Linked DNA regions of Homo sapiens: region 2 is linked to region 1. Evidence: fine-mapped expression QTL. Tissue or cell type: whole blood. Region 1 holds a variant in brackets; the other region holds the start of a gene. All regions are shown on one strand. Distances are from middle to middle.

Region 1 (8,370 bases):
TATACAAAATAAACTATAAAACAGATCGCAGACCAAAACTGTACAATTTTTGGAAGTAAAAAATGTATGAGAAATATCAGTGACACTGGGTTAGGCAAACACTTCTTAGACATGACAACAAAAACATGGTTCGTAAAATAATAAAATAAAAACCAAGATTCTGATAAATCTGATCTCATCAGAATTAAAAGCACTGGTCAGAGAGTGAACAAATAAGCGAAAGTCTGGGAGGAAATACTTGCAAACCACATATCTGATAAAGGACATGAATCCAAAGTACACAAGTAACTTCTGAAACATAATGAGAAGAAAAAATCTAATTTTAAATGAGCAAAAGATTTGAACAGATATATAACCAAAGAAGATATACCGATGGGAAGAATGCACATGAAAAGATGTTCTACATATTTAATCACAAGGAAAATGGAAACTGAAACCTTTAGAAGATACTACTATCTACCAATTAGAATGGCTAAAATAAAAAAGTTGGCTACCACTATACATATATAGTGAAATTTTACATAAATGGATAATGGATGGTAGGAGCCAGGTGTTTCACTGTTCCAGTGAGAGGTTACAGATGATCAAGGGGAGGGGGCTAGACTGATCTTTGTGGTCACGGTTTAGAGTTGAAGACATCAGTTTAAACTCATGTTTAGCTTAATATAGATAGAAGTATTTATAGATATGAATATATACATTCATATATACACATATATTTTCTTCTGTCTGCAGAGGCTAGAAGCAATGAAATCCCAGTAAAAATGAGCACACTAAACTACAAGATCTTGGTTTCTAATACCATTCTTGAAATAAAATAAACTAGGGCTCTTTGGAGAAATGGCTGGTTCTAGGATTGGGGGAGGAAATATACAGGAGGAGCCTGGAGTATTTTGTTTTACCAAAAAGAAAAGAAGTGCTCAAATAAAAACACATTGATGGAGGCATGTCAAAGGAACAGAGGAGCCAACTGAAAGCTCCCACCAGCCTGACATGGTGTTTGTCAGCTTCTTCTATTCTGAAGCTACTGGGTTTTTTTCCTACCTTTTCATACTGTACTCTTTGAAAGGAAGTCACCAAGTGAAGCACTGGCTTAAGAAGTGAAGTTATGCTTCACCTCCTTGATAGTAGAGAATCTGCATATTTTGAATTCTTCTTTCCTATTATTTACCTATTCAACAATTTATATCAGTATGGATAAAAAATAGTTTTTTACATTCTGTGTTATCATCCAATAATACTTTATTTTGTTGCTCAAGTGTTTCCAGCTTTGGTTATTGAGGGTATTTTTTGGAGCAACAAGATATTCCAGGCTCATCATGTGCTGTCCCTATCCCAGAACCAGAATCAGTCAAGGATCTCTGGTTCCTTTTACTGGAGAATAGTATTTAGAACCAAGATCTGGGGGCTCAGTATGTTTATGGCTACTGGTATGTCATTATTTCTAGGCCTTCTCGATGGACAGAGCTAGGATAGATATGTAAAAAAAAAAATTAGCCCATAGTGATACTTCCAACTGTAACCCAACACTACAGTGTATGTTCTAGTCTTCCCCTTTCCATACATGCAAGTTCCATTACCAACAGTAAGAAACCTGGCTTCCACTATTCTCAATATATATACTCATTTATCAAGTCTAGATTGCACAAAAGATTGTTTCAGAGTTGCTAGTCCAGTCATTGCTATGGAATACAACAATGCAGCACTTAGAGATAAGGAGTTCACTTTCTGTAACAGAGGCAGTAGAGAAAGAAAGTTAAGAGCATAGCTGTGGAGTCAGAATTTGAATCTGTCATTTTCAAAGTGTTTGACTTTGGGCAAGTTACGTTGCCCCTCAAGTATCAGTTTCCTCATCTATAAAATGGGAATAATGATGATATCGACTTCACTGGGTTGTTGTGAAGATGAAATCGTCTATTGTATGGTGGCTGCTATATTTTGGATATTTGTTCCTCCAAATCTTATGTTGAAATTTGATCCCCAATGTTGGAGGCGGGCTTAATGGGAGGTGTTTGGGTCATGGGGGTGGGTCCCTCATGAATAGATTAATGTCCTCACCCCAGGGGTGTGTGAGTGAGTTCTGGCTTTATTAGTTCCTGCCAGAGATGGTTTTTTTTTTGTTTGTTTGTTTGTTTTTTTGTTTTTTGTTTTTTTTTTGAGATGGAGTCTTGCTGTGTCGCCCAGGCTGGAGTGCAGTGGCACTATCTCCACTCACTGCTACCTCCACCTCCCGGGTTCAAGCAGTTCTCCTGCCTCAGCCTCCCGAGTAGCTGGGATTACAGGTGCATGCCACCACGCCCTACTAATTTTTGTATTTTTAGTAGAGACGGGGTTTCACCATGTTGGCCATGATGGTCTCAATCTCCTTATCTTGTGATCCACCCGCCTCAGCCTCCCAAAGTGCTGGGATTACAGGCTTGAGCCACTGTGCCCAGCCCTTCCCACCTTGCACCTCCCCCAGTCCCTTGCTTCTGCTCTTGCTATGTGATCTCTGCTCACACTGTCTCCCCTTCAACTTCTGCCATGAGTGGAAGCAGTCCGAGGCCCTCACCAGATGCAGATGCTGGCACCATGCTTCTTGTACAGTCTGCAGAATTGTAAACCAAATAAAGCCCTTTTATTTAGAAATTACCCAGCCTCAGGTATTTATTTTTTTATTTTTGTTTTGTTTTATTTTTTGAGACAGAGTCTCACTGTGTCGCCCAGGCTGGAATACAGTGGTGCCATCTCTGCTCACTGCAACCTCCCCCTCCTGGATTCAAGAGATTCTTTTGCCTCAGCCTCCTGAGTAGCTGGGATTACAGGCATATGCCAGCACACCTGGCTAATTTTTGTATTTTTAGTAGAGACGGGGTTTTCCATGTTGGCTAGGTTGGTCTTGAACCTGTGACCTCAGGTGATCCACCTGTCTCAGCCTCCCCAAAGTGCTGGGATTACAGGCGTGAGCCACCATGCCTGGCCTGTGTAGTGTATAGTAACACTACACAGACTAACAAGAGTAGCTATAGTAAGCATTCAATAAGTAAAAGCTAATTGTTGTTGTAGATGCCTTTAGGAAACTCTCTTTAAGATACTATGTAGAGTGAAAAAAGAGAGAACAAAATAGAATGAATCTTAAGGCCTCAATCATGCCTAGACATTTTCTAACTACTACCAAAGGAACTGTTAACATCAGGGTAAAATGAAACTCTTTTCCTTCTACAACTTTCTGTGTTGTATAAAATTTTACCATGCGCCTGTGTTACTTTATACTTAAAAGGACAATGATTTGGCTTATTAAAAGGTTGATTTAATGTCTCAAAAAGAAAAGGTTTGAAGACAATGTCTGTGAAACTGGTTTTCCTGAGATATATTGCCAAATGTTCTCTGCATCCTGGCCAGCCTGGGAAGCTGGCCCTGCAAGGCAGCATGCCCATGGCCACTAATTTCTCTTATTACTGCCATAGTTAGGTTCCATATCCTATTTTTTCATGGCACTGGAAAGAAACATGGATCCACTAGTAATGTTCTCTTCATTATGTTCTCTCTCTCTTTCATTCATATATTCATTCATTCAACAGATGTTTACCAAGCACCTACCTCGTTCTGAGCACTACAGCAGGCACCAGGGATGCAGCAGGCAAAAAAATAAAACAAAAACGATAAAAAATCTTTATCCTCGTGGAGCTTGCATTATAGTATAGGAATATTTCAAGAATCTATTGCTGCTTAACGAACTATTCCAAAACATAGTGTCCTCAAACAACAACCTTTATTTCATCACAATTCTATGAGTCAGGAATTCAGGGCTCAGCTTGGCAGTTCTTCTGTTCCATCTAGTATTGACTGGATCTCTTCCTTGACTCCCTTCAGCTGATGGGTGATGTTGGCACAGACGGTTCCAGAAGGCTTTAGTCACATGTCCAGAGCTTTGGTACATGGCCTCTTCTTCACCTGGCTAGTTTGGGCCCCCTTACAGCATGGTGGTCTCAGGGCATTTGTTCTTCTAATATGGCTGTGAACTTCCAAGAGGAGGCACCCCAAGGATGGAAGGCAGAAGCCCAGATTCAAGTGAGGGCAAAATAGGCTCCATTTCTTGATGGAGAATGACAATGTCACATTAGAAAACAACATGTGGGATGAAAGTTAATGTTGTAGTCATCTTTAGAAACATAATCTACCTTAGAGAGACAGACAACTAAAAAGACAAATGAGTAAAAATGAATTTTAAGGAGAAAACAAAAGCAGGAAAGGGAATACAGAGTGAGTTTGGGGATGGAGTTGCAATTTTAAGAGGGGCTAGAGAAGGACTGATTGAGAAAGTTACATTTAAATTAAGACTTGAGGCCGGGCGTGGTGGCTCACGCCTGTAATCCCAGCACTTTGGGAGGCTGAGGAGGGCGGATCACGAGGTCAGGAGATCGAGACCATCCTGGCTAACACGGTGAAACCCCGTCTCTACTAAAAATACAAAAAATCAGCCGGGCACGGTGGTGGGCGCCTGTAATCCCAGCTACTTGGGAGGCTGAGGCAAAAGAATGGCGAGAACCTGGGAGGCGGAGCTTGCAGTGAGTGGGGATACCGCCACAGCAGTCTGGCCTGGGCGAAAGAGTGAGACTTCGTCTCAAAAAAAAAAAAAAAAAAAAAAAAAAAGACTTGAATGAAGTGATGATAGTTGGTGTAAGAGCATTCCAGGAAGAGGAAACAGCAAGTGCAAGGCCCTGAGGCAAGAGCATGCCAGGCATGTTCAGGACAGCGCAAAAGCCAGTATATGTGGAACAAAGAGAGTGAAGTTTCTCTAGAGTAGCAGGAGATTAAGTCATATAGGTAATGGGGTCAGCAGACTGTGGACAGTCTTTTACTTCAGCTTTTACTCTGAATTAACTGGGGAGCATTTGAATGTTTTTTGCGCATGGAAGGTATACGACCTGACTTGTGTTTTCACAGGATCCTTCTGTCTGCTATCCTGAGTATAGACAGTAGAAAGCTATGTAGTAGTAGGGAGACCAGTTAGAAGGCTATTGTAATAATTCAGGCAACAGATGCTAGTGGCTTGAGTTAGGGTGGAAGCAATGGAGATGGTGATAAGTGGTTGGATTCTGGAGATATTTTTAACATATACTCAATAAGATTTGCTGGTGAATTAGATAGATGGTGTTTTGGATAGAGAGGAACCAAAGATGACTTAAAGGTTTTGACCTGAGCAACTGGAAGGATCGAGTTGGTGTTTACTAGATGAATAAAACTGTGAGAAGGTCAGAATTGGAACAGAATAGCAGAAGATCTTTTTAAAGTTTGAAATGACTACTATGCTTCCAAGTGCAGCAATTTAATAGGAGCTGCAACACACAAGTTAAGTCCTCACTTAACGTCATCAGTAGGTACTTGGAAACTTCAGCTTTAAGGAAACACACAATGGAACCAAATTACTGCAGGCTAATTGATATAAACAAGAGCTAAGTTCCTATGGCATATTTCTGGTCACAAAAACATCACCAAACTTCTAAAGAGTAAAACACTTCTAATATTAAACACTGAAATAAATGCGAACTATATATACTTTTAAGAAAGATTAATAAAAACAAGATAATTATTACCCAATTATTCCAGATGAGGGTTGAGGGTGGCCAGAGTCCACCCCAGCAGCTCAGGGTGCAAAGCGGAAGCCACCCTGGCCAGGACGCCATACCCTAGCAGGGGGCACCTCACACACACACCCACACAGGCTGGGACAATGTAGACACACCAATTCACCTGACATGCACATCTTTGGGATGTGGGAGGAAACCAGAATACCCAGAGAAAACCCACACAGACATGGGGAGAACATGGGAACTCCACACAGACAGGGGCCCCGGGCAGAAATCAATTTTTTTCCAATCAACAGTATAATGAAATGACACTGAATGGAATGATGTTATTTGAGGACCAACTGTCATTGCGTGTATGTATACATGTACACATTTTTATTTTACTTTTTATTAAGTCTTTATTATGTTATTATTTATTTATTTCAATAGGTTTTTGGGGGACCACATGGTGTTTGGTTACATGAGTAAGTTCTTTAGTGGTGATTTCTGAGATTTTGGTGCACCCATCACCCACATGCACACATTTCTAAATGCATAAAAAATTTTTGGAAATATACATTAAAAATTATTAACAGTGGTTACCTCTGGGTAATAGGAATCTTTGGAAACTGGCACTGGAATGTTAGAGGAGGAAGTAATATATGTTTTTGTTTTTTGATACCTTTCTGTATCATGTATGTACGTATATATGTATTACTATGTTCTATGTTACTTTTATGATTAAAAATTACTTAAAATTCTTGTGGTTGGTGAAATGAACCAAGTCACTGCAAACAGAAGTCTTACTAGGAAAGTCCACATTGGATCAGGGGTTTATAAGGTCCTTTCAAGCTCTGACATTGATTTCTGCAACTGGGTGTTAACTGGTAAGTCTCCCC[G/A]TCATTTCCTCCATAGGCTTCTGTGAAATTTGGTGTGTGAACAGCCTCTCTAATTCATCTGCTTCATCTTGAAAACAGTACCAAGAGCTCTCGGTGCTTAAATACCTCACAGGAAATTTGAGGTTGGATGAGATAAGGTGTTCAAATACTTTGAGTTACCACAAACACAGGTGCTCATGTAGGCACAATATTATGAGTCCTGGAATATTAACAGACCTAGTAAAAAGAAGCTGTTTCTGCCTTTTGATCACATAGGCATTTTGATACTCATGAACTCCATTTAGTCTGCGGTGGAATGAGTGTTTCTCCACAAACAGTATTAATTTTAGCATTTTTGTTCATGCCTTCTGTCAAACAAGATTTCTTCAGCCTTTGATTTTTATCAAGATTCACTTTATTCTTCAAAGCATTTAATTCAAGGTTCACTCCATCAGTGGGTGGATTAGTTGAGTAACTGAAATACCAGTGTTGAATGCCATAGTAGTTATAATATTTCTCTTCACAGGAGATATATTTACCAAAGTCATGTACTAATGAACAATGAAGTGACTGTCCAAATAGCAGACACCTGGTAAACACTGAATGGAAAATAAACATGGACAGCTCTACAAAATGTTTACTCAATGACTCTTAAATATTCTTCTAAGGTCACTATTATGTGTCAGGTGCCGTACTGGGTGCTAGGAATACAGGAAGGAGACGCGTTGTCTTTTCCCTCATGAAGCTTACATTCTACTAGAGAAATGTCACATTGTATTTTAAATTTTTCACACTGGTTCTAATGAAGTATTTGAGAAGCTATGTGAAGAGGAATTTGGAAGTTGCTGGCAGTTTCTGGAGATTATGTAGTTGATTACTATTATTCTGAAAAACAAAAAAAATCACCTTTAGTCACCCACAGAGGTAAAGAGAAAACCAGAAAGTCACCACCAATCAGAATCACAAAAGGCAGTCAGTGGAAAAGATTGCAAGTTTCAGGAAAAATGAGTTGTCTTAATATGTAAAAAAGCCTTTCTTAGAACTGGAACTTACAAGAAATGGGCTGAAAATTCTAAAAGCAAACAACCTTAAAGAATAATGTCAAACAGAGGCTGGATATTCATGAATATGATTGGTTGGGAGCATGGCTTCCGCCTACAGAAAGAGGTTGAAGTAGATTACCTCTGAGGAGCCTTCCTAGTCTAATTGAATAAGTACTGCAGTTATGAAATTATATTTTCTCTAGAGAACCCTTTCTCAACAACCAAATAACCCAAGTCGCTAATATTCTATTTATATTTTATAATTTCTTAACCAAGATCTCAAATAAGAACTAAGTAAAGAAAAAAACAGGCCTTGTTAGTTACTGAAGAGTAAATAGAAGTATAGTTTTCACTAGACAGTCTTGCCTGAAGCTCAATTAGAAATCTTACCATTCACTGGTAAAACATCTGCCAAAGTTAACAGGTAAACCACTAATTGGTAAGCGGTCACTCCAGGGCCCCTGCCATCATCACCATCCCCAACTCCCAGGAAATCTTGCAAAAAATTTTCCCATTGTTCTGCCTCCCTTTTCTAACTAATTTGCCAGCCAAATTTCTGTTTTCAGTACTAACTTTAGATGACTCTCCTCTCATGACAGCTTGACTTGTCACTCCTTATTTCTATAATCTATCAAAAATAGGACCTCCACAGTTAAAAAAAAAAAAACCCTCATAATTTGTATGGCAGATCCTCCAAGTTGACTGGTACTCAGGCACCAAGTCAGTCCCAAACTAAGGAATATTGATTGCATCAGTTCTTCCAGCTTTGATTCAAAGATTGCTTTTGGCAGGCTGGGCACGGTGGCTCAGGCCTGTAATCCCAGTGCTTTGGGTGGCCGAAGTGGGCAGATCATGAGGTCAGGAGTTCGAGACCAGCCTGGCCAAGTTGGTGAAACCCCG
Region 2 (4,000 bases), 88 kb after region 1:
TGGAAACTGAAACTTAGAAAACAGAGATAACTTATTCAAGGTTGCACAACAAGAAGAGTTTGGTTTGACCTGAATCTGACTCCAAAGCCAATACTCTATGCTGTGAGGAGTCGCAGAGGACTCCAGGGTTTCAGCAGAGGTGTTTGACCAGTGTGTGACCACCTCAAAATCTTTGGCCTTATCTCGATTACGTGGCAGCTTCATTCATGTATCAAAGGAAATACCAAATAAAAATTCAGTGTTAGTCAAGTATAAAATTATCTGACTCTCAATATTCCTGTTAGGTTGCAACCTACTACTATTTTGTGTTTTTTCTTCAAATCCAAACTGAGGAAGTAATTCCACATTTCAATCATTTTGATTTTGTCCTGCCTAAGAAATTAAGTATTGTATCTTCCCACATGTAAATAACCCAGGCTTTATGTATATTTAAACATTTATTTTCATTCCATGCAACTAAACTTCATGATTTTATCCTCTTGTCGCTTCTGTACCATTCCTATTCTTGCAGCCTGCAGCTCAATAAATACACCTGGACAGCTACACCTACACCTATATGATAGGTGCAAGAACATCAATAGAATGGCAATTCACTATAAATCAAGATTTTGTTAGCAATCAGGACAGCCAAAGTACATAACAGGACAGGACTGAAAAAAAGTACATCAAAATCTTTGAAATTTTTGAAAATGCTGGCATAAAACAGCATAAGTATTACTGATAAAGACACTGGACTTCTTTTGCATAATGAATCTTAATGTCTTGCTTTATTTTTCACAGTATTATTGAAAACTAATAATTTTGTGTCTGCTAAGGAAATCCCAGATTTTTAAACAAAGATATCAGGTGCCTCCATATGAATGAAATTGCAAATATTCTACCAATTTTGACCTACAAAACTGGCAATTTCATATGGCTTAACCTATTTCTGAAGTAGGTAAAAGAAGGTAGAGATTAAAATAGAAGTGAAGGTCCAGCTTAAAGACATCAGAGTTTTCTTTTAAGACCCTAAAGTTATGGTTAAGAGTGAAAAGTGGTAACATTTTAATAACTGATGCTGCCAAGAAATAATGTTGGTTTAGTAAAAAGTAAAATAAAAAGGTTTCTAACGCATTTTACATGGCTCAAAAGCAAACATCAAACTTCTATCCAATGTCACGTGTACTCCCTCTTTCCTTTCAAATGATTTGAGAAAGAACCCAGTATCAAACCTTCAACTTTTTCTAAAGTGCAGAGGTTGCTGTTTGCCTCTACTCCGCTCCGAACCCCCTCCCCCCAACCAGTTCTGTGTTGTGTGTAGACATCGCTCCATTACTGTGCTTCCCATTAAATCCGTAATAAGCCAGCTGTCCACTGGCCTCGCTGGGTTTCTTGGGAATCGAGGGGCTCCCATTTCCCCGGCATCACCTACACCTGCAAAAAGACAGGCGTCCAAAGCCTGGGGAGGGCAGCGGACAGGTGCGCCCGCAAACGCGCGCCTGGACCCCGGCACCGCCTTCCCAATCCGGACCTCAGCTGCCTGAGAAACTCGGGGGTTCCGATGTCCAGGCCCTTTAGAGCCCCAAGAGCGCAGTCTCCTAATCCCTCCCTTTGTTTCTGGCCACCGCTGAAATAGAGGAGCGGGGGAGAGGCTTTCCCGACTCCTCCACAAAGCAAATGCGCGAGGAACAGAACCCCGGCTCCCTCACCTTCCGCGGCAGGGTCCCTCCCGCAACTCACCTGCTGGGTGGGAAGCCCCGCCAGGCGGAGCGCAGGACCCCTCAGGCTCGGCCCCTCCATCTCCAACGCGAACTGTCCGGGCCGTCGCCACTCCTTCAAAGGGAAGATTTGAAAAGCCCGCCCCTGGCAGGAGCCGCAGAGGACGCCAACCGCCCGGCCGTACCAAGTCCCAGTCGCAGGGGCCGGGGGCGCAGGAGGAGCCGGGCCGAAGCGCACGCGCAGTGGGCGCGCCTTGCGCTCTGCAGCTCCCGCCGCCGGAAGTTGCCGAGACCCCAGGCTCTAGCGCGGCGGGGCGGGGGAGAGGGCGGCGGTGCCGGACTTAAGTCCCGGACAGGGATGTGGGCGGGCCTGGGACGGGAGTGGGAGGGGCCGCGGGGAAAGCTTCGGCGGCGGAGCGCACCTGTCCCAGCTCAGGTTTCTGGCTGGTGGTTTTCGTGGCACGCCCTTTGCACTGGGAGCTTTCTGCCCGCATCCCACCGAAGGCCTTCCAAAGTGATCGTAGCTGGACAGACTCGAGGCTGCAGTCCCTGTACTCCCAGACAACTCAGGAACCCACAGCGTCACTAAGAGCCCACGGTCTCGTTCCTAAAGAACCAATAACATTACTCTCAAACACAGCGCTCTCTGTTTCCTCTCACCTTTCCCAGCGTTGTCACCAGGGTCACCCAGATATCATGGTTTTATTCATCAGGTTCGTGAGATACTATGTCAGGCATTTCACAAGGTCTTGTCTTTGCCCCCAGTGTTTATAATCCCAGATGTTCCCCGCCAACTACTCTGTCCACTTACTTTGTTTTCTTGCGAAGGATTTCTTTCAGCTCTCTCGCCCTCTCTTTCCCTCTCCAACATCTAAGGTGATAGCAAAATGGGGTACTATTTCTCAAGAGCCTCATTTCTTGCTGCCCTAAAGATTAGCACAAAGACCCATTTTAATTCATGGATTTTGTTAATTATAAAGGGAAACATGGGATTTTTAAAAATCAAAATGAAAGCAGCAAAGATATCACACCCTTGAAAAGTCCTTAAAATTCATTGTCCCTAGTTTATCTTTATTTCCCCCTTGAAAAGGCAAGAGGAAGCCTCTTCTTGAAGAGTCTACCAAATCAACCCTCCAGCCCTCATCGCCTAGAAACCCTTGGGCATTTTTCCTCCATAAATAGGTGCCCATGTTTTTTCATTTGCCTGGGACAGACCCTGTCTGGGTCTGTTGTCCCAATGTTGCACCAATCTTGCACTTATCCCGTAGTGGATATTATGTGGTCATTTTAACTGCAAGACCCTTTTAAAAGCAGTTGGTTTGAGAATGTACTTTAAAAATATAATGGATACCCTTCCTCAAATAGGTAAAATGCCTCTTTAAGACCTTTTGGACTAGGTGATACTAGAAGCTTCCCAGTTGGGAATGATGGTCCCCTTGCATTATGAATGACCCATATCCTTACAACAATAAAATATGTGTTCAAAATTATCAACACGGAGCTCACCTCGTTTTCTACAAACACAGGTCTGAATTTCAGAATCATTATGTGCCCTTTCCTCCAATGCACATCTCTGTCTTATGCTACCACTTTGTGGTATAATTATCTCCTACTCAGTATGAGGCTGCATGAGCCTAGCTGTAGTACCTGACTCAAAAGAAAAACACACCGCGAGCCCATCATCAGACACATAGTACTTACAACACATACAGCTCTCAGTTGCAGATCAAAATACATGTAGAAGCCAGCACTTCATTAAAACAGAGGTGAGTCAACCAGTTTAGAATTGGACACTGATAGAGGAGTATTTGATGAGTTAAAACCAGATATTTAACTGGAGATACATTTATTTATGATACTAGAAGAAAGAGATTAGGCAAGATCATATTTAGTAATTATCTGTAGAATACAGTTGTTACAAGAGACCTTTCTCTTGGGAGAAGAAGTTATGATGTGGTCCTGTTTTTATTATACACCGGGAGAGGTCCCCAGGAATTGCTTAAGTACTTAATTATTATATGATGATTAAAATACCTTGGAGTAGGACTTATGTTTCCTTATTTATCCTCAAGTCCTTACTTGTTACTGCTAATTTCATCAGCCAGTTTTCTCTGGTGTATGTAATGCACATAAAATATACTCATCCATGGAAACTACAAAATTTAAAGAGTTCATATGCAGTGGCTTCATTAGCTTGAGGATTTCTCTATCAATCTATTTATTTTACAGTTCCCAGAAAGTGAGAAGTACTACGTTTTACCATCTCAAATATCTGAGAGAGAACATTTGGGCATCTCTTAACC

What was found. PIP is the estimated chance that this variant, and not a neighbour inherited with it, causes the effect.
Region 2: it holds the start of RTKN2, and the variant in region 1 is fine-mapped to the expression of RTKN2 in whole blood (INTERVAL, PIP 0.97).

What each region holds. Positions count from the first base shown.
Region 1 is chr10:62,177,076-62,185,445 of GRCh38, forward strand. It overlaps a transcript of RTKN2 not described here. Among named protein-coding and RNA genes, the nearest start is that of LINC02621, 78 kb to the right of the region's middle. RefSeq lists an enhancer at 3,410-3,579. The variant G/A (reference allele first, on the strand shown) is at 6,449.
Region 2 is chr10:62,266,832-62,270,831 of GRCh38, forward strand. It overlaps RTKN2 (rhotekin 2), which reads right to left and starts at 2,013. Exons shown (of 12, transcript NM_145307.4): 1 at 1,720-2,013. The coding sequence starts at 1,779. The region is part of intron 1 of LINC02621 (long intergenic non-protein coding RNA 2621); the gene reads left to right. RefSeq lists a silencer at 1,765-2,094.